7 separate regions of the Homo sapiens genome follow, and regions 1, 3, 4, 5, 6 and 7 are each linked to region 2. The links come from fine-mapping of genetic effects on plasma protein levels. Region 2 holds a variant in brackets. A gene starts in each other region. All regions are shown on their forward strands.

Region 1 (4,066 bases), not on the chromosome of region 2:
CTAAAAGCTAAAACTGTCTGATATTAGGAAGATAATTTTACTACAATATATACCTTTTTTGTGTGTATGAGACAAGGTCTCATTATGTTGCCCAAGATGTTCTCAAACTCCTGGGTTCAAGCAATCTTCCCACCTCAGCCTCCTGAGTAGCCAGGATTACAGGTATGTGCCATTACAGCCAGCTTTCACAGTGTATACTTGATGTACTATTAATGTACTATTTAATGACTACTAAAAAGTTTATGATAACAGGAGAAAATGCTTATGCTATCTTAAATAAAAATTTGAGTGTATGCATTGATACCAAGAAATGGAAATTTGAGTGTGTACACTGCTACCAAGAAACTGAAAAATGACATCCCATACCTTTAATATTTAATATTTATAACAAATGAGGTTTACATGGATTTTTTTATCTCATCTTATTTCTGATGTGTTATGTAGTTATAAATACTATTTTATTTGCACTCCTGCTCTGCAATAATTTTGAAGATAGATAACTTATATTATTGCTGTCTTCATTTTTTAAAATTCTCAAATCCAGATGAAATTATCAAAGTTGATAAAATAATCATTGTTCTATCTTCTTATTTGAAGATTAATAATTGTGTTGATTTTGCTTCCTTGCTCTAGTTAGCAGTGATGTCATCTGCTATTTTTAAACTTCCTTGAAATAATATATGTAATCTACTTCTAATAAGTTTTTCTTATTTAGCATTTTGGTCTAAACTAATTTATAATTATTTAGCCTTATTTCTCCATGTTTAACTTGCTTTAAAGCTCAGCACTGGTGTTTTCAGCCATGGCTTCTCCATTTTAAGGCTATTTTAATTCATTTATTATTCTGGAATATATCCTTAAATAATTTATTTAGGAAGGCTGTCTTGGTGGTGGTATTTCTGTTGCAGTTGTTGTTTTCTTGCCTGCTTGGTGACATATTTCTATTGACTTGACACTTAACTGGCATCTTATCTAGGTAGATAATGCTAATTCAAAATTCTGCAGATATTGTTCTGTTGTTTTTTGCCATTTAGGGTTGAGTAAGATGCCAAGTTGTTTTTTGTTTCTCTGTAGTCATTCTGTTTTCATTTTGTTTTTAGCTTTGCCTTTGGAATTTAAAATGTTCAAAATGATTTGTCTGGATGAGAATCGATTTTCATAACTTTTGCTTTGATACACTAAACAGTTTGAGTTTCTAGATGATGCCCATTTTAATTCATACGAGGAAATATCTTCTAGTATAGTTTCTGCTTGATTAATTCTATGTTTGTCTCTTAGGGACATCTATTAATTTTATAATGCTGCCTTTTTTTCAGACTTCTGTTTCAGAATATTCGCTTTCATCAATGTAATCCTTGGCTATAGTAGGAATGAAATAATAAAAGCAGTAGCTTCTGTCTGCCCTCCTTGGTTATGCAGTCCTTACAGAACATCTCCCCATCTCCCATCCCCCCACCCCAGCTCAGTGAAACTCTCCACACTTTGGTTGTGGAAATTGGCAGGGTTAGGTGGCTACTCACTCCCAATCCACATCCACAATAAATCACTTTTTATTATCTTATCAAAATCTGTAGAATGCCTCTTTATTCTATTTTGTTGCTGCGGAGGTTTGTTTTCTCTTTCTAATTATTTTATTTTCTAGGTTTTTTGAGGGAATTTCAAGAGGGGAGATTTTTTATTCAGGCTCATCTTAACGTCATGTCTGGAACTCAAGCTACTGAATTATATATTCTTTAATACATATAGACCTACGTCAATGAGTTTAAACTGCAAGGAAAGGGTTAAATTTCTTCCTCAAGTGTGGTCAAAATCTGTAGAGAAAAGAGGAACAGCTTCTCTTAAAGAAAGTTAGCTGGGTAGGTATACAGTCATTGCCGAGGAAGGCTTGCACAGGGTGAAAGCTTTGCTTCTCTGCTGCTGTAACAGGGACTAGCACAGACACACGGATGAGTGGGGTCATTTCCAGATATTAGGTCACAGCAGAAGCAGCCAAAATGGATCCCCAGTGGTGAGTAATAATTCTTATTCTTTGCAGAGAAGTTATGAGTTGTGACTGCAGTGAAAGGCTGAGGTTGAAGATGGTGCTTTGATGTGTGTCCTTCACTTAGTTCCTAAGTGGAGAAGCTTTCTTTTTCTACAAAAGATCTTTGGCACATAAAGGCAAGAATTATTTGCAATGCCCAAAGCAGTTCATTGGTGGTAGTTATATATATTTTTAGGTGCCTAATTTTGGTTTTGTAAATCTGTTATTCAAATACTGAATGTTACAGTCATTGATTTTAGTGAAGAATCAGGAATTTTTAAAATATCTGCATAAGAATGACAAATAACAGGGAATATGTTTTTTGTCTACCAGGGTCAGTTTGGTCTGAGGGTGGAGGAATGAGATAGAGAAGGTAGAGGGAGAGAGATCAAGAAAAAGAAAGAGAAAAAAGAGGTATAAGGAGAAAATGCAAAACTCAGTTAATATGTCATAATCAGGCCATGGGAGATTCTGGGCAGGGTTGGGTAGTGGAAGGAGGTAGAGTGATTAAATTAGTTACCATGTATTGAACATGCATGATGTGCTGGGTACTTTACTAGTGCTATTTCATTGAATTTTATTCTTCACAATGACTTTTGGAAAGACATCATCATTCTTTTTGACAGATGGGGTAACTGTGGCTTAAAAAACTTGCCCAAGTTCACACTATTCATAAGGGGTAGAGCTAAAATCTTTCCTGCCCGCTTCGTGGTGCGCCAGAAGGTTTCTCCATGCTGTGGAGACTTCCTGGAAGGAGTCACACCCGCCCTTCTCTTGGGTGGTGGCAGCTGGCGCCAGTCACTATGTATTTATTTATTTTTAATTATTTATTTTTGAAACAGAGTCTCGCTCTGTCGCCAAGCTGGAGTGCAGTGGCGCAATCTCAGCTCACTGCAACCTCCGCCTCTCGGATTCAAACGATTCTCCTTCCTCAGTCTCCTGAGTAGCTGGGACTACAGGCGCCCACCACCACGCCCGGCTAATTTTTGTATTTTTGGTAGAGACGGGGTCCACCATGTTGGCCAGGATGGTCTCGATCTCTTGACCTTGTGATCTGGCCACCTCGGCCTCCCAAAGTGCTGGGATTACAGGCGTGAGCCACCGCGCACCCGGCCGTCACTATGTATTTATAATTACTGTTCTTTGAAAATCGAAGTAACTTTCATCTACCCAGTGCTTACTGGTTTGAGAAAAAGCTTTGTTGCTTTTATTTCAGAAGATTAAAATTTAATTTTCCAGTAAAGATTCCTTTTGCTCCAGTGGAATTTTGAAGCGTTATACTTGTATGAAGAAAAAAAGAATTTCAAAATTTATAATTTTTGTGGTACCATAGAGGGGATACTACTTAATTATGCTAGCACTGTCTGCAGAGGTCTAAAAAACCATAGGCTGCTGTCTATATTGAACTTGTTAAGATTCCTTTTGTTTCACAGTGCCTGAAGATTGGTCATGAACCAGTAATAGCCATTAAACAATGTCTGTTCTCATAAGAGATGAAATAAATACAAATTAAAACAACAGTGAAGTATCATTTTTTCTCTATCAAAGAGATAAATATTAAGTTTTAAAAAGCAAGCAATCAAGAACCCTCTATCTTGCTAAGAAGGGAGGATTATTTGTACCCTAGTTGCGCACTAGTGGTGATATCATCTTTCTGGACAATAATCTAGTGATACATATCAAAAGCCTTTAAAATGTATATGCCCTTTAACCAAGCAATTCACCTTTTAGGAATTTATTCTAAGATATAATAATACATGTTTGTAAAGTTTTAGTGATGGATATTTTTCTTGCTATTGTTTCTAATAAGGAAAATCTTAGAAACAATTTACGTGTTTAAAAACAAGTGATTGGATGATTATGGAACATCCATAATGGAATACCATGTAATTATTTAAAATTCCACTGTAGAACAATTCATAATGTGTTTAGTTAAAGGGGAAAAATGCAGAACGAACAGTGCTATCACTTTTATACATGATACATGTATACAAACAATATTAATCAGAAATATAGGTAGTTTGTATTTTCTACTGTGTGCTT
Region 2 (4,066 bases):
TAGTAGAGACGGGGTTTCCCCATATTGGTGAGGCTGGTCTCGAACTCCCAACCTCAGGTGATCCGCCTGCCTTGGCCTCCCAAAGTGCTGGGATTACAGGCGAGTCCTAAATGCTGGATAGTAGCCCATCAGACATGTTTCCCGCATTCTGCTCTCAGTAGGCACCCAGGCTGCCTCCAGCTCCTTGCTACCCAAACAGCACTGCAGTGAACATCTTCACAGTGCCCCATAATGGACCTGTCAGAGATTCTCTCTGGTGTATGTATCTGGAAGTAGGATTTTCAGGGATCATCTTTTTTTTTTTTTCGAGACGGAGTTTCACTCTTGTCACCCAGACTGGAGTGCAATGGCACAATCTTGGCTCACTGCAATCTCTGCTTCCTGGGTTCAAGCGATTCTCCTGTCTCAGCCTCCCAAGTGGCAAGGATTACAGGTGCCCGCCCCCAAGTCCAGCTAATTTTTGTTGTTACTGTTGTATTTTTAGTAGAGACGGGGTTTCACTGTGTTGACCAGGCTGGTCTAGAACTCTTGACCTGAAGTGATCCACCCACCTCGGCCTCCCAAAGTGCTGGGATTACAGGCATGAGCCACCATGCCCGGCCGATAATATGCATTTTTTTTTTTTTTTAGACAAAGTCTCCCTCTGTTGCCCAGGCTGGAGTGCAATGGCTCGATCTCGGCTCACTGCAACCTCCACCTCCCGAATTCAAGCGATTCTACTGCCTCAGCCTCCTGAGTAGCTGGGATTACAGGCGCACGCCACCATGCCCGGCTTATTTTGGTATTTTTAGTAGAGACAGGATTTCATCATGTTGGTCAGGCTGGTCTCGAACTCCTGACCTCATGATTCACCCGCCTCGGCCTCCCAAAGTGCTGGGATTACAGGCGTGAGCCATCGTGCCCGTCCTGATACTATGTATTCTTAATTCCAGTAAATATCTTGCAGAATGGCTATTCCAATTTATCCTCCCATCAGCAGCTTCTCCCACAACCTTGGCAGCAATTGACTTCCTCTTAATGTTTGTCAATTGGATGGGTGTAAACAGATGGCTCACTCGTGTTTGATTTCTCTAGTTAGTCACTAGTGATTGTAAACATGTCTTCATATGCACATTAGAACCCCAGGCTTCCTCATCTGTGAACTGCTTGTTTATACCTGATGCCACTTTTCCAATAGGTTTCCTGTGTATTTCTTCATCTTGGTCTCCTTCTGTGTTGAATGTCTTCCATTTGTCCTTCCAGATCCACACTCTATCCTTCTCCATGTTGTTCTGTGGCCTGGGAGGCTGAGCTGTATGACTGCATCAAATCGCTCCCTTGCCATCTGGCTTCCAGCCCTCTTCCAGGAAGAGAGGGAAGTGAGGATATTAACTCCCCGGCCCCTCCCTGTAGAGTGGCTGTGGGTTAGCTGCCCCCTGCAACTGAGTATCACAGCTCCTGTTGGGAGGCCCTCTCCCTGCGGTCCTGGAGGTGGTAACAGCTCCCCACTCTGGGATGCCTAGGTTCTTGCTCCATCTTGTGGCTTCCCTAAGCCTGTTCACACCTTTGCAGAGAGTCCCTATATTATGAAATCTTGCACTTACCCATTTTTGGGTGTGCCATCTGTTGCTTGCTGGGAGCCTACCTGATACATTGCTGTTGAACTGAAATTTATCATTTTCATGCAATTTCACAAATTTTTTTTGGCTTTTTGGAATGTGCTTCGGAGGCCTTATTTAACAAGCTCTTCAGCCGGGCGCGATGGCTCACACCTGTAATCCCAGCACTTTGGGAGGCCAAGGTGGGTGGATCATGAGGTCAGGAGATGGAGACCAGCCTGGCCAACAGGGTGAAACCCCGTCTCTACTAAAATTCGAAAAATTAGCTGGGCGTGGTGGCGCATGCCTGTATTCCCAGCTACTCAGGAGGCTAAGAAGGGGAATTGCTTGAACCTGGGAGGCAGAGGTTGCAGTGAGCCAAGATCACGCCACTGCTCTCCAGCCTGACGACAGAGCAAGACTCTGTCTCAAAAAAAAAAAAAAGAAGAAGAAGAAACCCTTCTATACTCTTAGTAGTATAGATTTTTCTTTCTTTCTTTTTTCCTACTAGTTCTGTAATTTTATGTTATATGTTTAGGTCTTCAATCTATCCAACATCCACCTTTGCCTGTGATGTTAGGTATGAATCCAGTTTTACTTATCTTCATAGAGTGAGCCAGTTTTCCCAATAATGTCTTTCTTCTACCAATTTGAGATGTTACCTTTATTGTATATTAAGTTCCCATGTAGGCACAGTTCTGTCTCTCGGCTCTTTATTCTATAACATTGGTTTATCC[G/A]TCTATTCTTGTATCATTACTGTGCTATTTTTATTACTATGGCTTTGTAATATATTTTAAAGTCTAATAAGGCTAGTTCCCCCTTCCTCCAATTTCTCCTTTTTTTCCCATATTGACTTTTATCTTGCCACATATATTTTTTTTAAAGTTGTTGCATTGCTTTTAAAAATCCAATTGAGGTCGGGCGCAGTGGCTCACTCCTCTAATCCCAGCACTTTGGGAGTTTGAGGCAGGTGGATCACTTGAGGTCAGGAGTTCAAGACCAGTCTGGCCAACACGGTGAAACCCCATCTCTACTAAAAATACAAAAATTAGCTGGACGTGGTGGCGGGCACCTGTACTCCCAGCTACTTGAGAGGCTGAGGCAGGAGAATCGCTTGAACCTGGAGGCGGAGGTTGCAGTGAGGTGAGATTACACCATTGTACTCCCACCTGGGTGACAGAGGGAGAATCCATCTCAAAAAGAAAATCAATTGAAATTTTATTTTTATTGCGTTGAATGTATATGTTAATTTGGAAAGAATTTAAGTTTCTTCTTGTATGTTCTTCATGTGTTATTGTGGTGATAGACTAATACACCTGCCGAAGCCTCTTATTAGGTCGAATTGTTTGTTTGTTTGTTGATGGTGTTGATTTTCTGTATAGGTGAGCATATTGTTTTATCTCTTCCTTTCCAATTCTTACAACTTTTAATGTCTTTTTCTGTCTTGTGCAGTTTGGCTACCATGCCCAGGATGATGCTGAACAGCAATAATAGCACTATAACGGAGGCTTCTAATTACCCCTAATACCAATTATCCCCTTCTTGCTACACCAGAGGTCCAGAAACATCTCCTATAAAGGGCCAGATAGCAAGTATTTTAGGCTTACCAGGTCATACAGTCTTTATCATAACTACTCAATTCTGCTGTTGCTGTGGTCATAAATGACATGTAAACAAACAGGCATGGCTGTGTTCCGATAAAACTTTATTTACAGGCCGGGATCCGTGGCTCATTCCTGTAACCCAGCACTTTGGAGGCGAAGGCGGGTAGATCACTTGAGCACAGGAGTTCAAGACCAGCCTGAGCAACATGGTGAAACCCCGTCTCTACAAAAAAATACAAAAATTAGCAGGGTATGGTGGCTTGCGCCTGTAATCCCAGCTACTTGGGAGGCTGAGGCAAGAGGATCACTTGAGCCTGGAAGGCAGAGGCTGCAGTGAGTCAAGATCCAGAGGCTGCAGTGAGTCAAGATCACGCCGCTGCACTCCAGCCTGGGCGACAGAGCCAGACCTTGTTGCAAAAAAAAAAAAAAAAAAAAAAAAAAAAAACTGGCCAGGTGTGGTGGCTCACACCTGTAATCCCAACACTTTGGGAGGCTGAGATGGGCAGATCACCTGAGGCCAGGAGTTCGAGAACAGTCTGGCGAACATGGTGAAACCCCGTCTGTACTAAAAAAAAAAAAAAAAGAAAAAATACAAAACATTAGCCGGGCATAGTGGTGCACGTCTGTAATCCCAGCTACTTGGGAGGCTGAGGCACGAGAACTGCTTGAACCTGAGAGGTAGAGGTTACAGTGAGCCGAGATTGTGCCATTGCACTTCAACCTGGGCAACGGAGAGAGACTCCGTCTCAGAAAAAAAAAAAAAAATAGAAAAAGAAAGCTTTATTTACAGAAGCAGGTGAGGGCCAAAGTTTACTGACTCCTTCTCTACAAAATAGAATCCTGTGTTTTTAGCAAGAATGTGGCCTCATGGAATAAAGTTCATTT
Region 3 (4,066 bases), not on the chromosome of region 2:
CTCACTACAGCCTTGAACTCCTGGGCTCAAGCGATTCTCCCACCTTGGTCCCCCAAGTAGCTGGGACTTCAGGCATGTGCCACCATGCCCAGCTAATATTTTTTATTTATTTTTGTAGAGACGGGGTGTCCCTATATTGCTCTGCCTGGTCTTAAATTTCCGGACTCAAGCAATCCTCCTGCCTTGGCCTCCCAAAGTGTTGGGATTATTGTTGGGGCCAGGCGCAGTGGCTCACACTTGTAATCCCAGCACTTTGAGAGGCTGATGTGGGCGGAACACCCCGTCTCTACTAAAAATACAAAACTTAGCTGGGCATTAGCTGGACCTGGGAGGCAGAGGTCGCAGTGAGCCGAGATTGCACCACTGCACTCCAGCCTGGGCTACAGAGTAAGAGACGCCATCTCAAAAAAAAAAAAAAGCTTGTTGGGGCCGGGCGCAGTGGCCCATGCCTGTAATCCCAGCACTTTGGGAGGCTGAGGTGGGCGGATCGCCTGAGGTCAGGAGTTCAAGACCAGACTGGCCAACATGGTGAAATGCCATCTCAACTAAAAATACAAAATTTGCTGGGTGTGGTGGCGTGCATGTGTAATCTCAGCCACTCGGGAGGCTGAGGCAGGAGAATCACTTGAACCCAGGAGGCGAAGGTTGCAGTGAGCCGACATCGTGCCACTGCACTCCAGCCTAGGCAAAAAGAGCGAAACTCTGTCTCAAAAAAAAAAAAAAAATGCTTGTTGGGGCCCAAGTTAATTGATTTCACAACTGCTGCCTTGGCATGAGATTGAGATGCGTCTCTATATCTCTGTCTCTGTCTCTGTGTCTCTGTCTCTGTCTATCTTTGTATCTCACACACAAATGTCCAGGTCTGAGCTCTGGGTCAGAACTGTGGTCCATTCTTTGCAAACTGAGGGTCCCCACTCTCCTGAGCCATTGGCCACTTGCCCACACCACTACCCAAGACCAGTCCCACCTCCGGACACGTCGACTCACTGTACACGGTGATGTTAGAGGAGCCTGTTATCTGAGAGCCATTGCAGTACACTGAGCAGAGGATCCGACTGTTGCCAGTCACGTTGCTGAGATTGAAGGCTGCCCAGCCCATGCCACTGGCCACCAGCTCCTTTGATAGGGACGTCTCCAAGGCGATTTTCTCAGAGCTGGGACAATCAGTACTGCAGTTCACAAACAGGGACCCTCCAGCAGAGAGCACAGGGTTCTGGGGCTCCACCCGCAAAAGGAACTCCTGCCCCTGGACACCTTCAGGAACATGAAGAAGTCCTGGTGTTTGTTTCCTTGTCCCCCAACCCACGCATCAACAGGCCCCACCATTTAACACCTCTCTCCTTGTGCCGAGACAGAAGGGTTCCTGCCTTCATGGTCCAGTGGGAAAGGTAGAATCCATCAGAGACCGGGGAGAACTCAGAAGGAGGCCAGAAGAGGCTCTGATCCAGCATAGGAGGAGGTGAGTCAGGGAAGGCTTCCTGGAAGCGGGGACCATTGCAGCCCGAAACTGAAGGCTAAGTAGGAGTTAGCAAGTGAAAGGGACAGGTGATCCTGGCAGAGGGAAGCACATACGCAAAGGGCAAATTTCAGGAGTTCAGATGGAGCAGGAAGCATGAGGGGTGTGTGTGTGTGTGTTAGGGGAGAGGGATGGCGTACAAGCCTATGCTGGGGCCTGACCACCTGAAGGCTGAACTAAGGAACCAGAACTTTCTCCCGAGGATACAGAGTCAGCGGCCAGGTCGCAGTGTGGCAGGATGTGAACAGCGTTGCGTTCTATTCCTCTACCCTCTACTGATCCCCAAAACGCAGCCCTCTCCAGCCCTCCCCGGCTTGACTGGTCTCACCTGGGGTCAGCAGACAGCAGACCAGCAGAGTCCAGCAGGCCCTGGGCCACAACACGGATGGTACCATGGTGGCCATTCTGACAGAGGAAGGTGCCTTCCTGAGGTGCCCGAAGGGCAGGCAGGGGAAAAGGCGGGGCCTCCCACTGCGACGGAAGCACAGCGGTTAAGATTGCAGAAGTCTGGGGACTGCACCTTGCCCAGGCCTGTGGGTGGAAGGGGATGCTGTGGCCCTTGGGGGCCAGGGTGGGGGACCCAGACGGGGCTCTGCAAAGTGGCCAGCACTGCTGAGTCTCCCCCAGGGAATGGGCTGGTCCCAGTTGCACTGCTGGCCCCCATTTGAATTCACAGGAAATGCTAACTAAACTGGTTTCTTTTGTTCTCAGCACTGGGAAGCCTGGGTGGGGGGGATGAGGCATCTCCTTCTGGCTGAACTTAGGTGGGTAGGGGAATATTCTGTCCCCAGAGAGGAAGTTAATGGGGAAAACTGTAGGCACCATTGTGTAGATGTTAAGGTGGGATTTCGAGGAAACATTAAAAAACAAAAACAAAAACAGAAACAGAAGCAGAGTCTTGCTATGTTGCCCCGACTGGTCTTGAACTCCTGGCCTTAAGATGGCCTCCTCTCATCTTGACCTCCCAAAGTGTTGCGATTACAGGCGTGAGCCACCACGCCTGGCCACCTTTGAAGATCTTGAGGATACCTCCCTATCTTTGAAGATCTTGGGGATCCCCCATCCCCTGCACAAAGAGCTAAGGTAGGTGATTTGGGGACAGCTGAGTCCCTGAGCCACTGTCTATCCAGGATTCTACTTGGTTTTTGTTTGTTTGTTTTGAGACAGAGTCTCACTCTGTCACCCAGGTTGGAGTGCAGTGGCGGGATCTCGGCTCACTGCAGCCTCTGCCTCCCGGGTTCAAACGATTTTCCTGCCTCAGCCTCCCGAGTAGCTGGGATTACAGGCATGTGCCACCACGCCCGGCTAATTTTTGTACTTTTTGGTAGAGACGGGGTTTCACCATGTTGGCCAAGCTGGTCTCAAACTTCTGACCTCAAGTGAGCTGCCCGCCTTGGCCTCCCAAAGTGTTGGGATTACAGGCGTGAGCCACTGCGCCCGGCCTTCCAGGATTCTACTTGTAACTGGCCTTTACCCCATCCTGTTGTCCCCTTGCCCACCCTTCCAGGCAGCTGGTCACTGCATTCCAAGGGAAGGCGCCAAGGGGACCAGGTGGGACCCCCACCTTTGACCTGCCTCTGACCTCAGGCCTCTGACCTGCCTTCTGGGCTTCACATCTGAGCTCCAGAGAGAGAGGCCTTGTTGAGAGCCTTGATGGGGCCCTGCACTCACCCACTTTCCCCAGACCTTGAGGTCACAGCACCTCCTCTCTCATCTAGAGCACCCCCACCTTCCTAAGCAGGTCCCTCCTCTATTCCTCTACCTTCCGAACAATCCATTTCCCACCTGGTGTTGAGAGAGCAGCTAAAACCCAAGTCTAGTGTATTTGTAAACAGCAGGGACCAGTAGCATGGGCCTGGTGCCTGTAGTCCCAGCTCCTTGGAAGGCTGAGGTGAGAGGATCGCTTGAGCCTGGGAGGTCAAAGCTGCAGTGAGTCGAGATTGTGCCCCTGCACTCCAGCCTGGGAGACACAGTGAGACCCTGTTTCCACAAAAAAAAAAAAAAAAAAAAAAGATGTCGGACTTACTGGCTCACGTCTGTAATCCTAGCAGCACTTTGGGAGGCTGAGGTAGGTGGATGACGAGGTCAGGAAATCGAGACCATCCTGGCTAACACAGTGAAACCCCATCTCCACCAAAAATATAAAAAATTAGCTGGGCATTGTGGCGGGCACCTGTAGTCCCAGTTACTCAGGAGGCTGAGGCAGGAGAATCACTTGAACCCAAGAGGCGGAGGTTGCAGTGAGTGGAGATTGTGCCGCTGCACTCCAGCCTGGGTGACAGAGCAAGACTCTGTCTCAGAAAAACAAACAAACAAACAAACATATATATATAATTTATAATACTTACGTAATAGTGAGACCCTGTCTCTAAAAATAAAAAAGAAAGAAATATTTGTAAATAAGTCATATTTCTTTTTTGTTTTTTGAAACAGAGTCTCACCGTGTCGCCTAGGCTGGAGTGCAGGGGCACAATCTCAGCTAACTGCAATCTCAGCCTCCTGGGTTCAAGTGATCCTCCCACCTCAGCCTCCCTAGGAGCTGAGACCACA
Region 4 (4,066 bases), not on the chromosome of region 2:
GTAGGTGCATTCCCAGACGTGCTTTGAGTCAGTCACACTAGTTAAGCCTTAAGGGAGGGAGGTGAAGGGGGCTGCAGGTGAAGAAACTAAAATGGAGTCTGTCCGGCGCTCTCTCTGCTACGAGAAGGTCACTTAGGTTAAAACAAGGTTGGGTATCACACTGGGAGGCCGAGGCGGGCGGATCACGAGGTCAGGAGATCGAGACCATCCTGGCTAACACGGTGAAACCCCGTCTCTACTAAAAAAGAAATACAAAAAATTAGCCGGGCGTGGTGGCGGGCGCCTGTAGTCCCAGCTACTCGGGAGGCTGAGGCAGGAGAATGGCGTGAAGCCAGGAGGTGGAGGTTGCAGCGAGCTGAGATCGCGCCACTGCACTCCAGCCTGGGCGACAGAGCAAGACTCTGTCTCAAAAAAAAAAAAAAAAAAGTCATTGCCCCAAATAGAAACCCATTCCCATTAGCACCCACTCCCCACTTTCCTTCACAGCCTCAACAACCATGAATCCACCTTCTGTGTCTATGGAGTCACTTATTCTGGACATTTCATATAAGTGGAATCACACGACATGTGGTCTTTTGAGTCTAGCTTCTTTCTTTCTTTTCTGAGACAGGCTCCCACTCTGCGGCCCAGGCTGAAGTGCAATGGCGTGATCGCAGCTCACTGTAACCTCAGTCTCCCAGGCTCAGGCGCTCCTCCTGCCTCAGCCTCACAGCAGAGACCACAGGTGCGCACCACCACACCCGACTATCTGGCTTCTGCCACTTAGCGAAATGTTTCTGAGGTTCTTCATGTTATAGCACGTGTCAGCACGTCACTCTTCTTCATGGCTGAGTAATACTCCACTGCGTGAAGAGACACATTTATCTGTCCCCGTGTTGGGCATCTGCACTCTTCCCACATTTTGGCTATACTAAATTGTCCTGCTACGAACACCTGTGTAGTTTCTGTGTAAAGGTACAGTACCTATATGTTGGGGTGATCAGACCCAACCCCAGGTCGTGGGGGTGACAAAGTCCGGCGGAGTCAAAGGATTCAGAAAAACACAGAGAGAGAAAGGTGGCACACCAGGGGGCCATCGCTATTGTGGAGGCTGCAAAAGCCCGAGCTCTGGGAGCCCACGGTATTTATTGGTAATGCAACAAAGAAACAGATGGTGAGAATATGGAGGTCAAAAGACCACGTTGCATTAAGCACATGATTACAGCTGTGCCGGTTTAGCATTTATATGGAGCATGTTCTGCTACTTGAGATAATGGGAATAGGGGCCTAGGAGGGCTAGAAGGAAGGAGCCAGCAAGTCTAGACACATTCCAAAGGACATCATGCAAGCCCTGCCTCAGTTTCCCTCCCAACACCTATATGTCTTGTTGGTATACATGTTGTATTTTCACAACGAAAATGCATGAGAAAAAGGACACAGATGGCTTATGTGTACTGATGTGTAGCATTCTCTAAGATCTGACATCACAGAGCTGGACAGCACAGCTGTGCACGCACCCCCCTGGCTGGGAGGTGGCACATCCACACATGAGGGAAAAACACTGCCAGGACATCTCAGGGCACTCTCAGGAAATGAGGAAGCTGCTGGAGAAGTTTCTAGCCTTGGGGGAGGTCAGGACGCAGAGCCATCTCCTGGAGCAAAGTTCCCTCCTCCTCTCTCCCTCCTCCTCTCTCCCTCCTGCAGCCCTTCCTTCCGACCCCTGGCCCTTTCTCTCCAACCTTCCCCTCCCCTCCTCCATTTCCCTCCTCTTTCTACTTTCAGAGAACACAGGGTTCCTGCAGGAAATGGGGCAGTTTCACCTTCCTGAGGAGGGGCCTGGGAGGGGCAGCAGGTGGCCGGGTAGGGCCAGCCCAGCTGTGAGCCTGGCGTGGGAGCTGCCTAGGCCGGGCCCTGCCAGGGAGCAAGTCTGCATCGCAGAGGCCAGGGTGAGTGGGCTGGGGAGTCGGTGCGCCAGGGTACTGGGGTGCCCACCTGGGGTGGTGCAGGCCCGGGGACCCCAGGGCACCACTGTGGGTGGAAGCTGGGACCAGGCGTGCGGGGCAGGGGACGCGGCGGCTTCCTGGGATTCTAGGAGGCTGAGGCCAGGTGTGTGCGGCAGGGGACGGGGCGGCTTCCTGGGATTCTAGGAGGCTGGGACCAGGTGTGTGGGGCAGGGGACGAGGCAGCTTCCTGGGATTCTAGGAGGCTGGCACCAGGTGTGTGGGGCAGGGGACGCGGCTGCTTCCTGGGATTCTAGGAAACTGGGGCCAGGTGTGTGGGGCAGGGGACGCGGCTGCTTCCTGGGATTCTAGGAAACTGGGGCCAGGTGTGTGGGGCAGGGGACGCGGCGGCTTCCTGGGACTCAAGGAGGTGGGAGAGCTGCTCTCAGACCCGCCGCTGTCCTCCCACTGGCCCTCCCCGTGGTCCCTAGGATGAGGTCTGGACCCGCCAGGCCCTCCAGAGGCCCCACAACCCCGCTTGTCCACTGTGCCGGCTGTTCCTTCCTTGTGGCGCCCAGTGCGGTCCTAGGCACCCTTGGGACTCAGCTCACGTACCCCTTCCTCCAGGAAGAGTTCTCAGAGGCTGTGTGAGGAGCGCCGAGTCCCCGGACTTACTCTCTGTTCTGGAATTCTCTGCGCAGTCATCTGCCTTCCCGCCCAGCTAAGAGCAGGGCCTGTTGTCCGGCCCCACAATTTCCTTCCAGGTGGAAAGGATTTGCTGAATGAAAATCAAAGCTGTGGCCGGGCGCGGTGGCTCACGCCTGTAATCCCCACACTGTGGGAGGCCGAGGTGGGCAGATCATGAGGTCAGGAGATCGAGACCATCCTGGCTAACACGGTGAAACCCCGTCTCTAATAAAAAATACAAAAAATTAGCCGGGCGTGGTGGCGGGCGCCTGTAGTCCCAGCTACTCGGGAGGCTGAAGCAGGAGAATGGCGTGAACCCGGGAGGCGGAGGTTGCGGTGAGCTGAGATCGTGCCACTGCACTCCAGCCTGAGTGACAGAGCGAGACTCCGTATCCAAAAAAATAAAAGAAAAATCTTCTCCCCGGGTAGGGTGCGGGGAGCTTCAGGGTTATCACAGGACATGCTAGAGAGAAAGCCTTGGGCACAGGCGGAAGTTGGAGTCTGGAGCTGCGGCTGGGCTAGCGAAGGGCAGAACCTACTTCGGCCAATGGCTCTTACACAGCCAAGCTATTTTCATGGTGAGGGTCTAGTAGCCTCCACATCTCTTGGCGAATTCTTGCTGATTGGCGTCTGACCCCATGGAGAAGCTCAGTGGGTGTCATGGGTGGAAGGGGGCATCTAGGGCCTCCAAACGTGGAAGTGTCTCTAAAATACCTCCCGCTGGGCCTCAGTCTCCTTGTCGACAAAAGGTCAGCTTTGACAAATCTCCAGTCGGAGGCCAGGAGCAGACGGGGAGGGTCCCTCAGTCCCTGCTTGCAGCTTCAGGGGGACGTAGGCTGCGGTGGACGGACACTGAGCCCCAAAGCGGCCTCTCAGAGCCGCCCCTGAGGGGTGGCCTCACAGGTCGGGCTGAGGCTCCCAGCTCCCACTGGGTACAGAGCGGGCAGGCGGGCCTGGCAGGGCAGTGGTGCTGGTCTACACGCAGCTCTGGAGTCTCTGGACCTGTGTCCTGTGCGTACATCCTGGCTCCATCTCCCATGAGCCAGGGGGCTGGACCTGTCTTCTCTACCTCAGTTTCCAAGAGTAGGAGACAGGGGTAACAGCAGCCTTGCTCTCAGGGGTGAGGGCGTGGGTTAAAGGGCAGGACACCCATGGAAGCAGTGGTGGCTCCGAGCACCTGCTCAGCCTTCCCAGGTCTTCAGAGCCCACAGGCAGAGCCCACCCTGAGGGAGGAGCAGCTGGTTCTTGGGTGAAGTGAGCCCCCAGGACCCCGCCTTGCAGGACCCCGCGAGGCCCCGGTGAACTGGAGCCGGGAACCGGCCCCACGGAGGCACGTTGGGATTTGGCCACCAGAGGGCAGGAGCTGCAGCAGCCAGGCAGGCGGTCAACACGGGGGCCCCGGGGTCCTGGCCGGCTGGTGGGGTGTGAATTGGAGAGGAGTGGGCTGTGTGGAGGGAGAC
Region 5 (4,066 bases), not on the chromosome of region 2:
TTTTTGCTTTGGGTCAGTGATAAAGGGCAGTGATTGCAGAGATTGCAAGAATTAGGGAAATCCTGAAATTTGTGAAGGAGATAAAAACAGGACTGAAGCAGATGTCGATGGGAACCAAGAGGTTAGTGATTGAAAAGTTAGTGCATTTTCACTGTAGTTAGTTGCTGCAGTGAACTTTTCCACCTTGGATTGTGGGGCAGGCAGAATAAATTATCAAGGCAATAAAGGATCTTATTTTAAAGGATTCTTTTGGTAGTTCCTAGCACACAGGGTCAAAGGAGAATAGAGAAGTGTGACTCAGAGCAGGGTTCATTTCCAGGTCCTTGCTGTAGATAGGATGATGCCATTCACACTCTGAGAAATCTCTTCCCATCGCTCTCCGAAGGAAGTCTAAACCAGATGGTAACTTAGCTTAGCTGCAAAGAAAATAAGAGCCACCAACAATTTAATGTTTTTCAAACTGCCTGGACAATCTTTTCCTTCCTCATACAGGCACGATAACAGAAGTGGCCGGTGGAGGGTGGCCCATTGAGTGCCCATGATGCAGTCCAACCAAGAAACAAAGTTCTCTGCACACCCCTCGCCCAGGCAAAAAGAGAAAGTAAAAGCAACCGGTTGCTGCCAAGGGGTGTGGTGTGGTGGGGCTGGCACTACCCTGAACATCAATGAAGGCTGTCTGTTTCTGGTCCTGCTTCCGCAGTGAGAGGCAGCAGGTCCCCAAGCAGGCGACCTGCCCTTCACCGTGAGGCTGTCAGCCTTGGGGGAGCGGGGTCATTTGGAGCTGATAAACCAATGAGAAGAAAGGTTTGTTGCTCTAGGCGGTGGGTGAGGGCATCATAGCTGACTCTTGGTCTTGGTCACTTTCGGAGGAGATGGTTTATTTAACCTGACTTCCTTCCTGATGCGCACCGTAGGCGCAGTGAAATCCGGGAATCGTGGGGAATCCTTGGCGCTGTGGGTGGAGGCTCCTCTTGGCCCTGTGGCCAAGGTGACCAAGGGCCGAAGGAAAAGCGAGAACGGGAGGGACGGGACGCAAGAGGGCAGATGGGGAACCCCATACTCCAGCAACATTATATAAGAGAGGCGACGATGGAGCAGCGCACCCGGCCAAAAAAGCCTCCGTGCGCCTACTCTACGGTGCACCGCGTCCCCTCTGCACCAGAAGGGCCCTGTCCTCCCACATCCACCGCGCCCTCCTCCGGGCCCCCGAGGGCACTGGGGCGCTTCCTCTGCCAGACCTCCCCTGCGACTCACTCTTCCGGCTCCAGAGCCCCCCCGCCCCAACAGCAAAGCAGCCGTGACCTGCCCCAGGGGCGCAGCCCTGCCCCAGGCTGGAAGGCAGCAGAGCTGTGGCGTCGAGGCACCCAGCGGACTGCGGGGCTGGCGTGCCCGCGGTTACCTGCGCGGCCAGAGGGCTCCGCGAGATCGAAGAACCAGAAGAGCAGCATGAGGAGCCCCGCCGGGCGGCGAGGGGTCGCCCAGCCTGTCCTCATCCTGAGCTGGCGCAAGCCTTCCGGCCGGGTCCTCGGGCGCACGCGGCTCCCGCCCCGCCTGCTGAGCGCGGCCTGCCCCGCCCGCACCTCTGTCTAGGCCTCTGGGGGCGCCCCGGCCCCGCCCCCGCCGCCCTCGGCCAATCAGACGTGCGTCTCCTCGGCCCCGGGGCGGAGCGGGCCAGGTGTGGGAAATGAACAGGGCTGGGCGCTAGATACCTGCGTGGGGTAGGACCCGCGAGGAAGAGGTACGTGCGGATCGGTGGGAGAGCCAGGCACCAGACAGGCTCCTGCACTGGAGGGTTCGGTCCCCGCCTCTTCATCAGCCAAGCTGGGGAGATGCGGCCCTTACTGGGACTTGGCACCGCCCTGGTGGGTGGGTTCTATCAGTTTAGAACCTTGGCCTCTGCCTGGCGCACTGTGGTCAGGGACGACTTCTCCATTCCAGCCTGGACTGGAAAGGGACCCATGATCTCTTCTACCCCGGAGGAGGAAGTGAGCACCTGCCCTGTGGGTGGCTGCGGCCAAGCCTAAGAATTCAGTCGTCCTTGGCAACGTCTTGGGTATTTTGACAGTGCAAACAAAGGTGGAATAATGGTACACTGCAGTTCTACCCATAGTTGTTAAAGAATTAAAAGCAAGAATTACTAGAATGACCAAACGACACTTCCAAGGATGACTTATGCTTTATAAAAAGTTGACCTTTGCGAGTAAGCTCTTTGCTTAATAATTTAATGATAATAATAATTAGCTGGTAGAAATGTAGAAGTCTGCATGCAGAACCAGAAATTTCATGTCCCACTCACTCTCTTCCTGTGGACACTGCTATCATTATAAAGAGGCCAAATTCTTAATGACCTAAGTTGCTCAAATGTGAATGTTTTATACTTTTAAATCTCGTCTTTGCTGAGCACATAATGTGTACTTGAGGTGGCCTCCATCCTTGTTGCATGAGGATGCAAAGACCTAGGTTGCTCTTCCTGACTCCCACTGCCAAGGTTTCACAGTTGGCTCCCAAACCTGCTCTGTCCTCTCCCCAGGGTCTGGCCTTTCAGTTCCATAGATATAGTGAGCACCTGCCATCACAGGATCTGGGCACGCCATGGAACAGAAGGACAAAAAGACAACATCTCTGCCCTCCCCTGAATACTGGGGAGACTGAGGCACTGTGATGGATAATATTGTCAGCTCGATTGATATGAACGAATGCAAAGTATTGTTCCTGGGTGTGTCTGTGAGGGTGTTGCCAAGGAGATTAACAGTGGACTGGGAGAGGCGGACCAGCCCTCAGTCTGGGTGGGCACCATCTCATCAGCTGCCAGCATGGCTAGAATAAAAGCAGGCAGAAGTTGGAAGGACTTGACTGGCTGAGTCTCCTGGCCTTCACCTTTCTCCCGTGCTAGATGCTTCCTACCCTCGAACATCGGACTCCAGGTTCTTCAGCTTTTGGACTCTTAGACCTATAAAAGTGGTTTGTCAGGGGATCTCTGGCCTTCGGCCACAGACTGAAGGCTGCACTGTTGGCTTCCCTACTTCTGAGGTTTTGGAACTCGGACTGGCTTCTTTGTTCCTCAGCTTGCAGACAGCCTATTGTGGGACTTCACCTTGTGATCATATGAGTCAATACTCCTTAATAAACTCCCTTTCATATATACATGTATCCTATTAGTCCTGTCCCTCTAGAGAACCCTAATACAGGCACACTCAGTGACACAGGGCAGAATGAATGGGGAAACTCTGACAAATGTTGAGGGAAGGCAACATCTTAGCTGGGTCTTAAAGAATGGGTAGGAATTTGAGCAGGCACAGCTGGTGGGAGAAAACCAGTGACAGGGCAGAGGCCAGAAAATGCAAGCAGAGTCAGAAGACAGTCCAGAGTCCAGGGTAGCTGCCCTGCGGGGGGTGTGTCTGTGAGAGAGATCAAAGTGGTTGTGGTGGGGGCCCCAGTGGAAATGACAGCAGAAAGGTGAGTTGTGTCTGTTTTGTGAAGGGCCTTGAATTTATTCTAAGGCACAGATGGTGGGAAGTTCTGAGTAGGAGAACCTGCCACTGACCTGATCCCCTCTGCCTCTGTGGCTGCCTGCCTTTCTTTCTGATCCTGCCCAGCTTGGAGCTCCTTGAGGGCAGTGGTCTTGCCGTATTCATTATCACATCCTCAACACTGGGCACAGGGCCTGTCCCAAAGTCAGCTCTCAATAAATGTTAGTTTAATCGATGGATGGATTCCTAGGGCCACCACCTTAGCCTAGGGCCATATGAGCTCCTACTTGCATTATATTGCAATAATTTATCAATTGACCTCACTGCCAACAGTTATTATCCTCTCTGGCAAATGAATCCTTCTAAACACTGTTTGGAACATGCCACTTTTCTACTCAAATCCTTTCAGTGCTATTTGCATATAGCAGGAGCTCCTAAATGCTACTTAAGGGAAATTATGAAACCCTGAAATTTTATGCAGCTTTATAAATGCACTATGTTTTGAGGAGGAGGAGGAAGGGTACAAGGCTTTCATGAGAATCCCAGAGAAGCCCATGATACAAAAAGAAAACTCTAAGACAAAAAGCAAGTACCTC
Region 6 (4,066 bases), not on the chromosome of region 2:
TACAACAGATATTATTTACTGGAGACTTAATTTGTTGTATATCAAATGAGGATGCAGCTACCTCTCTATTAGTAAGGATGAATGAAGAGTTATCTAGATACTATTGTGTGTAGAGATTTGACAAAGGTATGGTGGCAAGTACTAATATGTCCCAGGGATCAACGGTTTGCTGGATGCATACTACACAGAGTGATATGGAAAACCATGTAGCTGGACCTAAAGTTTAATTTTCTCTGTACACTCCACTCATGTTGTCTGGAAATATTATGTCTTTGGGCCATATTTAACTGTGAGAAGCAGATTTTTACATGAAAGAAAATGTTGATCCATATGATGAGCCTCTAAAAAAACTTGCTTCTGCCCACACTGAACCAAATGGCAGCATGAATGGAAAAGAAGTTTTTTCTGCACTGGTTCATAGAACATGTGTTCTCCCTTTTGTTTCACAGGAAGATGCTGCATGGTTCTTGTTTTGGAGATGTCATTGACACTGTGCAAATCAGTGTACTAGGTGCCAGGGGAAAATTCTATAGTCATATTTCTTTTAAAATTTCCAATATGCTACCATGATACATGGCAAATTCCCAACTTTTCACAGCTCTAAAGCCAGACAGCATGTGTGTGTGTGGTGAGGACATGAGGCTATGGATGGGGAGTATCTTAAGGGCAGGAATCAGGTCAGTGGCATCTCTTCTCAAGCCCCACCTATACACAAAGGCTCACTGTAAGAATTAAAGAAAGAGGAAAGAAACACGAATGGTGGCTCACCAGTCAAGACAGATTTTAGAGAAAACAAACCTGAGAGGAGTTTCTGGCCGAGTTAAGTCAGAGGCACACTCTCTTACAGACTAAGAGTTTTTAAGGATTTAGGGTGGGAGAGTTTATCAGAGACTTGGACTGCTTCTGAGTCTCTTTGTTGTGCTTATCTGGGAGAGAGAGGTGTGTGTCTGTACCCATACATCTTTCTGCAGCTACAGGCATACCCACTGAGTCTGCTTTTAGCTTCCCTATCTTAGTGCACCTGAAGGGAAAGGAATTTGCTTATTAAGGCCCACTGTTTTACTAGGGCCATTGTATGAGGGTGAAGTTTGGCAGTAACTCAAGAGACTCTCCCCCTACCTCCCTCTGTGCCCGAGCTGTCTTATCTGTGTTTCACTGTCTGCTCTTTCTGGTTGCTTGTAGTTAGCAGAGAAGTGATTTCCTTGAAATGCATGAGGCTAGAAAGGAAATTGGAACTTAAAGAGGCAGTGTTTCTCCGAGATGACGGTGCTCCTGCTCTGTCACTCACTATATCTTTAGTGAATGAATGAATAAATGAATGGCTGCCACCTTCACTTTACCTAGGACTCTTCTTTGTTTCTCTGCCCCAGACACTCACACGGACCCTATAGAATCCTATATCCTGCTGGACTAAACACCCCATGGATCTAGGTGAGGCTGCGACTCGGGCCAGGCCAGCAGTGATCAGCCCTGGTGTAAACAGTTGTGCACAGAAAAGCACCTCAGAGTGGAAGGACTTTAGACATGGGGTTCGCATGTCTCAGATGGCCCTGAAGGTACTGATCCAGGCTCTGGTGCTCCTGGAAGGCAAGACTCAGATTCTGCTCCATCTCCTCCCATCTCTGGGCGGGTCTCTGGCATCTCTGGCCCATGAGGGTCAATCTGTGTGGAGGGGACAAGCTCTGAGCATGTGTGGGTCTGAGGTTCCTCTTCCATGCAGGGCTGAGGTCTCCTGCTCCTCCCCAGCTTCCTGTCCGGCCCTGTAGTCCTTCCCCTCCACTCCCTTCCTCTTTTCTGCTCACACAGGAAGCCCTGGAAGCTGCTTCCTCAGACATGCCGCTGCTGCTACTGCTGCCCCTGCTGTGGGCAGGTGAGTGGCTGTGGGGAGAGGGGTTGTCGGGCTGGGCCGAGCTGACCCTCGTTTCCCCACAGGGGCCCTGGCTATGGATCCAAATTTCTGGCTGCAAGTGCAGGAGTCAGTGACGGTACAGGAGGGTTTGTGCGTCCTCGTGCCCTGCACTTTCTTCCATCCCATACCCTACTACGACAAGAACTCCCCAGTTCATGGTTACTGGTTCCGGGAAGGAGCCATTATATCCAGGGACTCTCCAGTGGCCACAAACAAGCTAGATCAAGAAGTACAGGAGGAGACTCAGGGCAGATTCCGCCTCCTTGGGGATCCCAGTAGGAACAACTGCTCCCTGAGCATCGTAGACGCCAGGAGGAGGGATAATGGTTCATACTTCTTTCGGATGGAGAGAGGAAGTACCAAATACAGTTACAAATCTCCCCAGCTCTCTGTGCATGTGACAGGTGAGGCACAGGCTTCAGAAGTGGCCGCAAGGGAAGTTCATGGGTACTGCAGGGCAGGGCTGGGATGGGACCCTGGTACTGGGAGGGGTTTAGGGGTAAAGCCTGTCGTGCTTAGCGGGGGAGCTTGACCAGAGGTTGATCTTCTCTCAGGCCCTCACCTGGACCCTCCCTCCTGATTCTGCATCCCCTCTTTCTCCTCACTAGACTTGACCCACAGGCCCAAAATCCTCATCCCTGGCACTCTAGAACCCGGCCACTCCAAAAACCTGACCTGCTCTGTGTCCTGGGCCTGTGAGCAGGGAACACCCCCGATCTTCTCCTGGTTGTCAGCTGCCCCCACCTCCCTGGGCCCCAGGACTACTCACTCCTCGGTGCTCATAATCACCCCACGGCCCCAGGACCACGGCACCAACCTGACCTGTCAGGTGAAGTTCGCTGGAGCTGGTGTGACTACGGAGAGAACCATCCAGCTCAACGTCACCTGTAAGTGCTGGGCCAGGATGCTGGGGTCCCTGAGGGTGTAGGGGAGACAGGATGGGCTGGTGCTGGGGACATTTAGTGTCCTGGAGGCCTGGCTGAGTTCGGGAGCCAGAAGGACATGAGCCCTGTCCCTTCTGCATTTCTGTGGTTTCTGGCAGGAGTAAGGGGAAATGCCTACCCTTATCTCATCTCTACCCCCAACTGAAGGAAATCCTCTCTTCCTCTCCTAGATGTTCCACAGAACCCAACAACTGGTATCTTTCCAGGAGATGGCTCAGGTAGGAAGGAGCCTCCCCGCCTGGGGCTGTTACTGACATTGAGTCTGTGTCAGGTTTGGTCAGATCTGGACTTTCAGAGTCAAATGTTCAGAGGCAAGGCCTGCAGTTAGACACGGGTAGACATCAGGCACCTTGGAAAAGGATATTTGGGGATGACTAGCAACTTCCCCCTTGCCCATCCAAATAATGCTCTTTGTCTCCCTCCTGTCTCTGAATGTCTTGGGGTATTTTATTTTTAATTGATATGTAATAATAGTACATATTTATGGATGGCATAGTGATGTTTCCATACTAATAATGTATAGTAATCAGATCAGGGTAATAGCATATCCATCATCTTGAACATTTATTATTTCATTGTTGTTGGGAACATTCAATATCCCCTTTCTAGCTATTTGAAGCTATCTATTATTGTTAAGCATAGTCATCCTACAGTGGTATAGAACACCAGAACTTATTCTTCCTTTCCAGGTGTAATCTAGTATCCTTTAACAAATCTCTCTCCTTATCATTGTTCCCCTAACCTTCCCAGCCCTTATTATTCTCTGTTCTACTTTTTACTTCTATGAAATCAACTTCTTGTAGCTTCCACTTATGAGTGAGAACATGTGGTATTCAACTTTCTGTTCCTAGCTTATTTCATTTAACATAATGTCCTCTAGTTCAATCTATGTTATAGTGAATAACAAGATTTCATTATTTTTTATGGCTGAATGATAATCCATTGTGTATATACGCCACATTTCCTTTATTTATTCATCTGTTGTTGGACACTTAGGTTTATTTCATATCTTCCTATTGTGGATAATGCTGCAATAAACATTGAGGTGCAGACGTTTCTTCAATATACTGATTTCCTTTCCTTTCTATAAATGCCCAGTAGTGGGGTTGCTGGATCATATGGTAGTTCTATTTGTAGTTTTTTGAGAAACTTCCATACTCTTCTCCATAGTGGTTATACTAGTTTACATTCTGGTCAAAAGTATATAAGAGTT
Region 7 (4,066 bases), not on the chromosome of region 2:
GCTGGGCATACAGGCGCACACCACCGCCACACCCACCTAATTTCTTGTAGAGATGGGGTCTCACTATGTTGCCCAGGCAAATCTCGAACTCCTGGACTCAAGCAATCCTCCCACCCTGGCCGCCCAAAACGCTGGGATTACAGGCATAAGCCAGGGTGCCTAGCCTGATGATTCAAGAAAAGGAGCTGGGCCCTTTCTCAGTTAGTTAAGGCAACCTACCATTTGATTACATCAAGACCTTTGTTTAATTACCTACCTCATGCTAAAAGGTAAAATAAATGGAGTATTGCACAATGACTTAAGATTTAATCTGGGAATGGACTCTGTGAGGCATATAATAATCAGATGTGTTAGAAGCACCTGAAACATAGTAGTGGATAGTAGTGGATCTAAAGCTGTGAAAAAGGAAATGATGATAGTTCTCACTCCACTGAACTAGGATCAGTGTTCCCATGGACCTAGATGTGTTTCTCTCCACACCAAGACTGTCAATCCAGGTTCATTGTCCCAAGAGACTCCCCGACTACTGCTTACCATCCACCACACTTGTTTCACTTGTTTCAAAGATATAAACCTTGGCCATGCCATTAATAAGTGGGCAGAAAAGAGTTTCTGAAGGGAGACTGGGACTTGCCTCATTATAAATGCTAACAGTAACAAACTTTTATTTAGTCTCTCTCTTCCTCTTAAAACACACACACAAGGAACCAGAGTGTCTGTAGGATGAATTCCCAGGCCATAGCAACTGCAATGTCCTGAGATCTAAGCAGTTCTTGGCTGGCCAGGCGTTAAGCCCTTTTGGGGAAGGAGACAGCAAGCCTGCTTTTCCCTTACACAGCCCTGTCGTGAAAACAAGCTCTTGTTTCTTGGGGGTTTTTTTGTTCGGTTTTTAGCTAAGAATTTCCATCCCTCCTGCAGTGATAAAAGATAGGCAAGGGAAGCTCAAGGGTTTGATCTCAAATTTTCTTCCACCTAACTTGCCCCTTCACCCCAATATTTGGAAATAAAGGGAGGGAATTTGGGGGAAGTTGAGGGTAAGTTTTTGGTCAAGATGATTGACCCGAGATGTGGATGCAGCTTAGACGATGAGGGAGACTGCACCACCCTGCAGGGTCACCTGCCTAGCCACAGGTAAACGAGGGATCGGAAAGACTGTAGAAAATTCATCTTCCTTCACACACATCTCCTTCCCCCTCCCCCCATTCCAGTGCCGGCGCGCTGGCTGGCTGGAAGCCGGCGCTTTGGAGGCGCCGGAGAGTGGGTCTAAGGGTGATATTTCGGCATACAGAACCTGAGACCCCACCCGAGCCAAGAGGGAAGAGAGAGGGTAAAGGGATTGAGGAGGGGGCGGCTTGCGCCCTGCTCGGGAATGCACCGCGCGACAGCACCCGGAGGTCTCCGGTGTCCGGCGCGCACCGGTACCACTGTCTTCCACTGCGGTAGCATCCCGACATGACATTGCAGCTGCAACAAAGCGCCGGCCTCGGCCGGCCGTGGGAGCCCCACACCGCGGCGAGGCCCCACACCACGCAGAGGGGCAGTGGCCGATGGGTGGGGGGCTGTGGCTGCGGGCGTGGGGAGCGCGAGGTAGGCCGAGTAGGGGGAAAAGCCCTCAAATGCGCAGAAGCTGGGCGGCTACCTCTAGCGTCTCCTCCAGCAAAGCCAGACTGCAAGGAAAACAATTCGTCTTCATTCCCCAGCCCCGGCTGAGCCCTGAGATTCCCCCAAATAACCTAGTCGAGGCCCTCTGGTGTGTTGCCTTCCCTTGGAAACCCCTCAGTGCCCGTAACCCAGTCGGCCGGGCCCCGCGCCTCCCTAAGCCCCGGCCCGGTGACCCGCCCGGCTCCCGGAGAGCGGTTCCTTCTGCTCCGGCGCCGCCGCCACCCCCGGTCCACGCAAGCGCTCACCAGGAGAAGGGAGCCCGCGATCATCGTGGCTGTGGCTCGGCGGGCGATGCGGCTGCAGGAGGCGAGGGCGGTGCTGCTGCTCGGAGAGGTCCCCATGGCTGAACCGGGGACTCGCAGGGGCGCCCGGGGCGCGCGGGGCAGCTGGAATCGGCGGCTGCTTCTGCCCAGCGCCGCATCCACCGCCGCCTCCCGGGCCGGGAGCCCATCTACCTCCAACACCCCATGTGCACTGCTGCGGCCGGGCAGAGGAGGGAGGCGGCAAGGGAGGCTCTAGGGGCGCTCAGCACCTGCCCAGCGGCGCGGCCGCCCAGGCGGGGAGAAGCCGCCGCGACTGCAGCCCGCGTCTCCGGGTGCTCTCCTCCGACAGCGGCTGAGGAGAACCAGGGAGGAGGACTGGGCGCGAGAGAGCAAAGGAACGACTTCCCATAGCGAAGCTTCCAGCCACTGCCAACCACCCTCCTCCGCTGCCCAGACTGGTCGGCGAGGGACTGAGTCGGTGGCCACCGGGCGCAGGGACACACGTGGTGGCGCCGAAGGGGCGGGGGACCGGCCCTTTGTGATGTCACCCGGGAGGAGGCCGGGCTCTTTGTGCGGTTGGAAAGGCGAAGGCGTTCCAGGTAGAGCGGGGAGGGAGAGGGTGCCCCTTGGCGTTCGCTGAGGAAATTGCACGCGCCTGTTGACCCAGGGAAAGCGCTGAGAAAGCATCTCACTCCTGATCTAACTTTACTTATTTTTTCCGAGATAATTCCAACTAAATTATTTCAGCTACATACGCCTTTCCATTGTTTCGGACACGATGATTAAATCAGAGAGCGATGGTGAATAGACCACAGAGCACTTAGATCAACTGCGTGACGAAAAAGGAGACCTGTGTGTTGCTTCTCAAACTTTGCTGCCCTGTGGAATCACCTGGAGAGTTCAAAACATATATATTGATTCTTGGGTCCCACCTCTAGAGACTCTGATTTAATTGGAACAGGACAGGATCTGGTCTGGGCATTGAGGTTTGTTGTTGTTGTTGTTTGTTTGTTTTTTAAGTTTTCAGGGTGATTTTAATATGGGGCAAAGATTTTAATTTTTTATATTTTAATTTTAATATGGGCTTATGAATGCAATTAAGGAAATCCAAACTAAAAGGATTTAAAACCCAGAGTCATTGGTGTTGGGTCCATGGATGGTCTTGGAGGGACTTTTGAACTCCTTGAAATGTATCAAAAGATGCATTTTCCTAATTTAAAAATCAAGAGTTTTGAATCGGATTATCCCTGAGATTTTTTTTAATCACCCTTCCCCCAAAAAATAATGCTAAAAATTTTTGAGTTGATTTCCAAAGGCCTTGTCAGGATGTGGGTGGTAGAATAGGTAGTATTCTGCTTCAGAAGGAGAACTGGAATATTCTCGTGGATGTTGGTATCTCACACACTTCTGAATGTAAGAGAGCAGCTGTTATCCTTTTCTTTGTTTCACCTGGGGGAAGGCCGAGTCTCCTGACTGTGGCCACCATTTCTGGTATCGTGTTATCCATCATCTAGGTACTGACAGCACATGGCACACTGTATTGATATTACCTCTTCAGCCATCCAGTCCACACCCCTCAATTGGGAGCCCTATGGTGCTGGGCTTATCCTAGGCTCCTTTGGTCCCATTTCAAAAGAATCACACTTTTTAAACTATCAGTTTCAAGATCCAACACCCAGTGCTAATAAAGGTAACTTGCTAAGTCATAGGTACCAATTATTTGCTTTATTAGTTAACATGTTGTCCTTTGATTCTTTGCTCTATGCACACTTTGGTAGAAGCTAAAATTAATATGAGGGTTAATTCCAATCTATTATTTCAAACATTTGTCAGTATTGTCTATAAATGTTAGAGTGGGAAAAAAGCTACAATATATAACCTCTAGTGAAATTCAAAGGAGTTCTAGAAAATATTACCATTAATTATGGAGTTTTGGGGAAAGGATGATGGTTGGACTTGCCACTCTCTAGCTATTTTCAGAAGTTGAAAGAGTGAGGGATAGATGCTGTGTTTTCATGCATAACTGTATCAATTTTTTCTTCAAAAATTCAAATGACTGGCCAATACTATTATAAGGTTGGGTTGTTTTTTTTTAAGAAGTTACATAGGTATTAAAGAGGAGGAGGAGCTTCAAATACGTT

Which allele goes with the higher level. Positions count from the first base shown, and alleles are read on the strand shown. Strength reflects both the effect of a copy and how common the allele is.
With allele G in place of A in region 2, the plasma level of the protein whose gene starts at base 1,867 in region 1 is lower (moderate association).
With allele A in place of G in region 2, the plasma level of the protein whose gene starts at base 1,930 in region 3 is higher (moderate association).
For the plasma level of the protein whose gene starts at base 1,848 in region 4, G is the low allele of the variant in region 2 and A is the other (moderate association).
With allele G in place of A in region 2, the plasma level of the protein whose gene starts at base 1,567 in region 5 is lower (moderate association).
For the plasma level of the protein whose gene starts at base 1,795 in region 6, allele A in region 2 goes with a higher level than allele G (moderate association).
For the plasma level of the protein whose gene starts at base 2,397 in region 7, G is the low allele of the variant in region 2 and A is the other (moderate association).

The links. PIP is the chance, under the fine-mapping model, that this variant and not a neighbour inherited with it causes the effect. Protein levels are from antibody-based Olink assays in UK Biobank. Linkage for the fine-mapping came from a reference panel and not from the study's own genotypes, which makes the PIPs less certain.
Region 1: it holds the start of CD86, and the variant in region 2 is fine-mapped to the plasma level of the CD86 protein (UK Biobank, PIP above 0.99).
Region 3: ICAM3 starts here. The variant in region 2 is fine-mapped to the plasma level of the ICAM3 protein (UK Biobank, PIP above 0.99).
Region 4: it holds the start of DPEP1, and the variant in region 2 is fine-mapped to the plasma level of the DPEP1 protein (UK Biobank, PIP above 0.99).
Region 5: it holds the start of LY75, and the variant in region 2 is fine-mapped to the plasma level of the LY75 protein (UK Biobank, PIP above 0.99).
Region 6: it holds the start of CD33, and the variant in region 2 is fine-mapped to the plasma level of the CD33 protein (UK Biobank, PIP above 0.99).
Region 7: TNFRSF21 starts here. The variant in region 2 is fine-mapped to the plasma level of the TNFRSF21 protein (UK Biobank, PIP above 0.99).

Annotation. Positions count from the first base shown.
Region 1 is chr3:122,053,496-122,057,561 of GRCh38, forward strand. It overlaps CD86 (CD86 molecule), which reads left to right and starts at 1,867. Exons shown (of 7, transcript NM_175862.5): 1 at 1,867-2,008. The coding sequence starts at 1,995. It also overlaps a transcript of ILDR1 not described here.
Region 2 is chr17:7,163,779-7,167,844 of GRCh38, forward strand. No RefSeq gene overlaps it. Among named protein-coding and RNA genes, the nearest start is that of ASGR1, 14 kb to the right of the region's middle. The variant G/A (reference allele first, on the strand shown) is at 2,315.
Region 3 is chr19:10,337,695-10,341,760 of GRCh38, forward strand. ICAM3 (intercellular adhesion molecule 3) reads right to left here and starts at 1,930. Exons shown (of 7, transcript NM_002162.5): 1 at 1,845-1,930; 2 at 988-1,254. The coding sequence starts at 1,920. RefSeq lists enhancers at 536-1,284, 1,570-1,669, 1,890-1,939, 2,033-2,780, 2,781-3,528.
Region 4 is chr16:89,611,795-89,615,860 of GRCh38, forward strand. DPEP1 (dipeptidase 1) reads left to right here and starts at 1,848. Exons shown (of 11, transcript NM_001389466.1): 1 at 1,848-1,925. RefSeq lists a silencer at 1,448-1,606 and enhancers at 3,012-3,716, 3,717-4,066.
Region 5 is chr2:159,903,190-159,907,255 of GRCh38, forward strand. It overlaps LY75 (lymphocyte antigen 75), which reads right to left and starts at 1,567. Exons shown (of 35, transcript NM_002349.4): 1 at 1,400-1,567. The coding sequence starts at 1,493. It overlaps LY75-CD302 (LY75-CD302 readthrough), which reads right to left and starts at 1,567. Exons shown (of 38, transcript NM_001198760.1): 1 at 1,400-1,567. The coding sequence starts at 1,493. RefSeq lists enhancers at 479-528, 579-628, 849-898, 1,039-1,118 and silencers at 1,299-1,758, 1,528-1,769.
Region 6 is chr19:51,223,286-51,227,351 of GRCh38, forward strand. It overlaps CD33 (CD33 molecule), which reads left to right and starts at 1,795. Exons shown (of 7, transcript NM_001772.4): 1 at 1,795-1,870; 2 at 1,933-2,313; 3 at 2,518-2,796; 4 at 3,024-3,071. The coding sequence starts at 1,834. All of the region lies in intron 2 of LOC107985327 (a long non-coding RNA gene), which reads right to left.
Region 7 is chr6:47,307,509-47,311,574 of GRCh38, forward strand. TNFRSF21 (TNF receptor superfamily member 21) reads right to left here and starts at 2,397. Exons shown (of 6, transcript NM_014452.5): 1 at 1,908-2,397. The coding sequence starts at 2,003. RefSeq lists enhancers at 1,348-2,070, 2,234-2,413, 2,365-2,659 and a silencer at 1,864-2,093.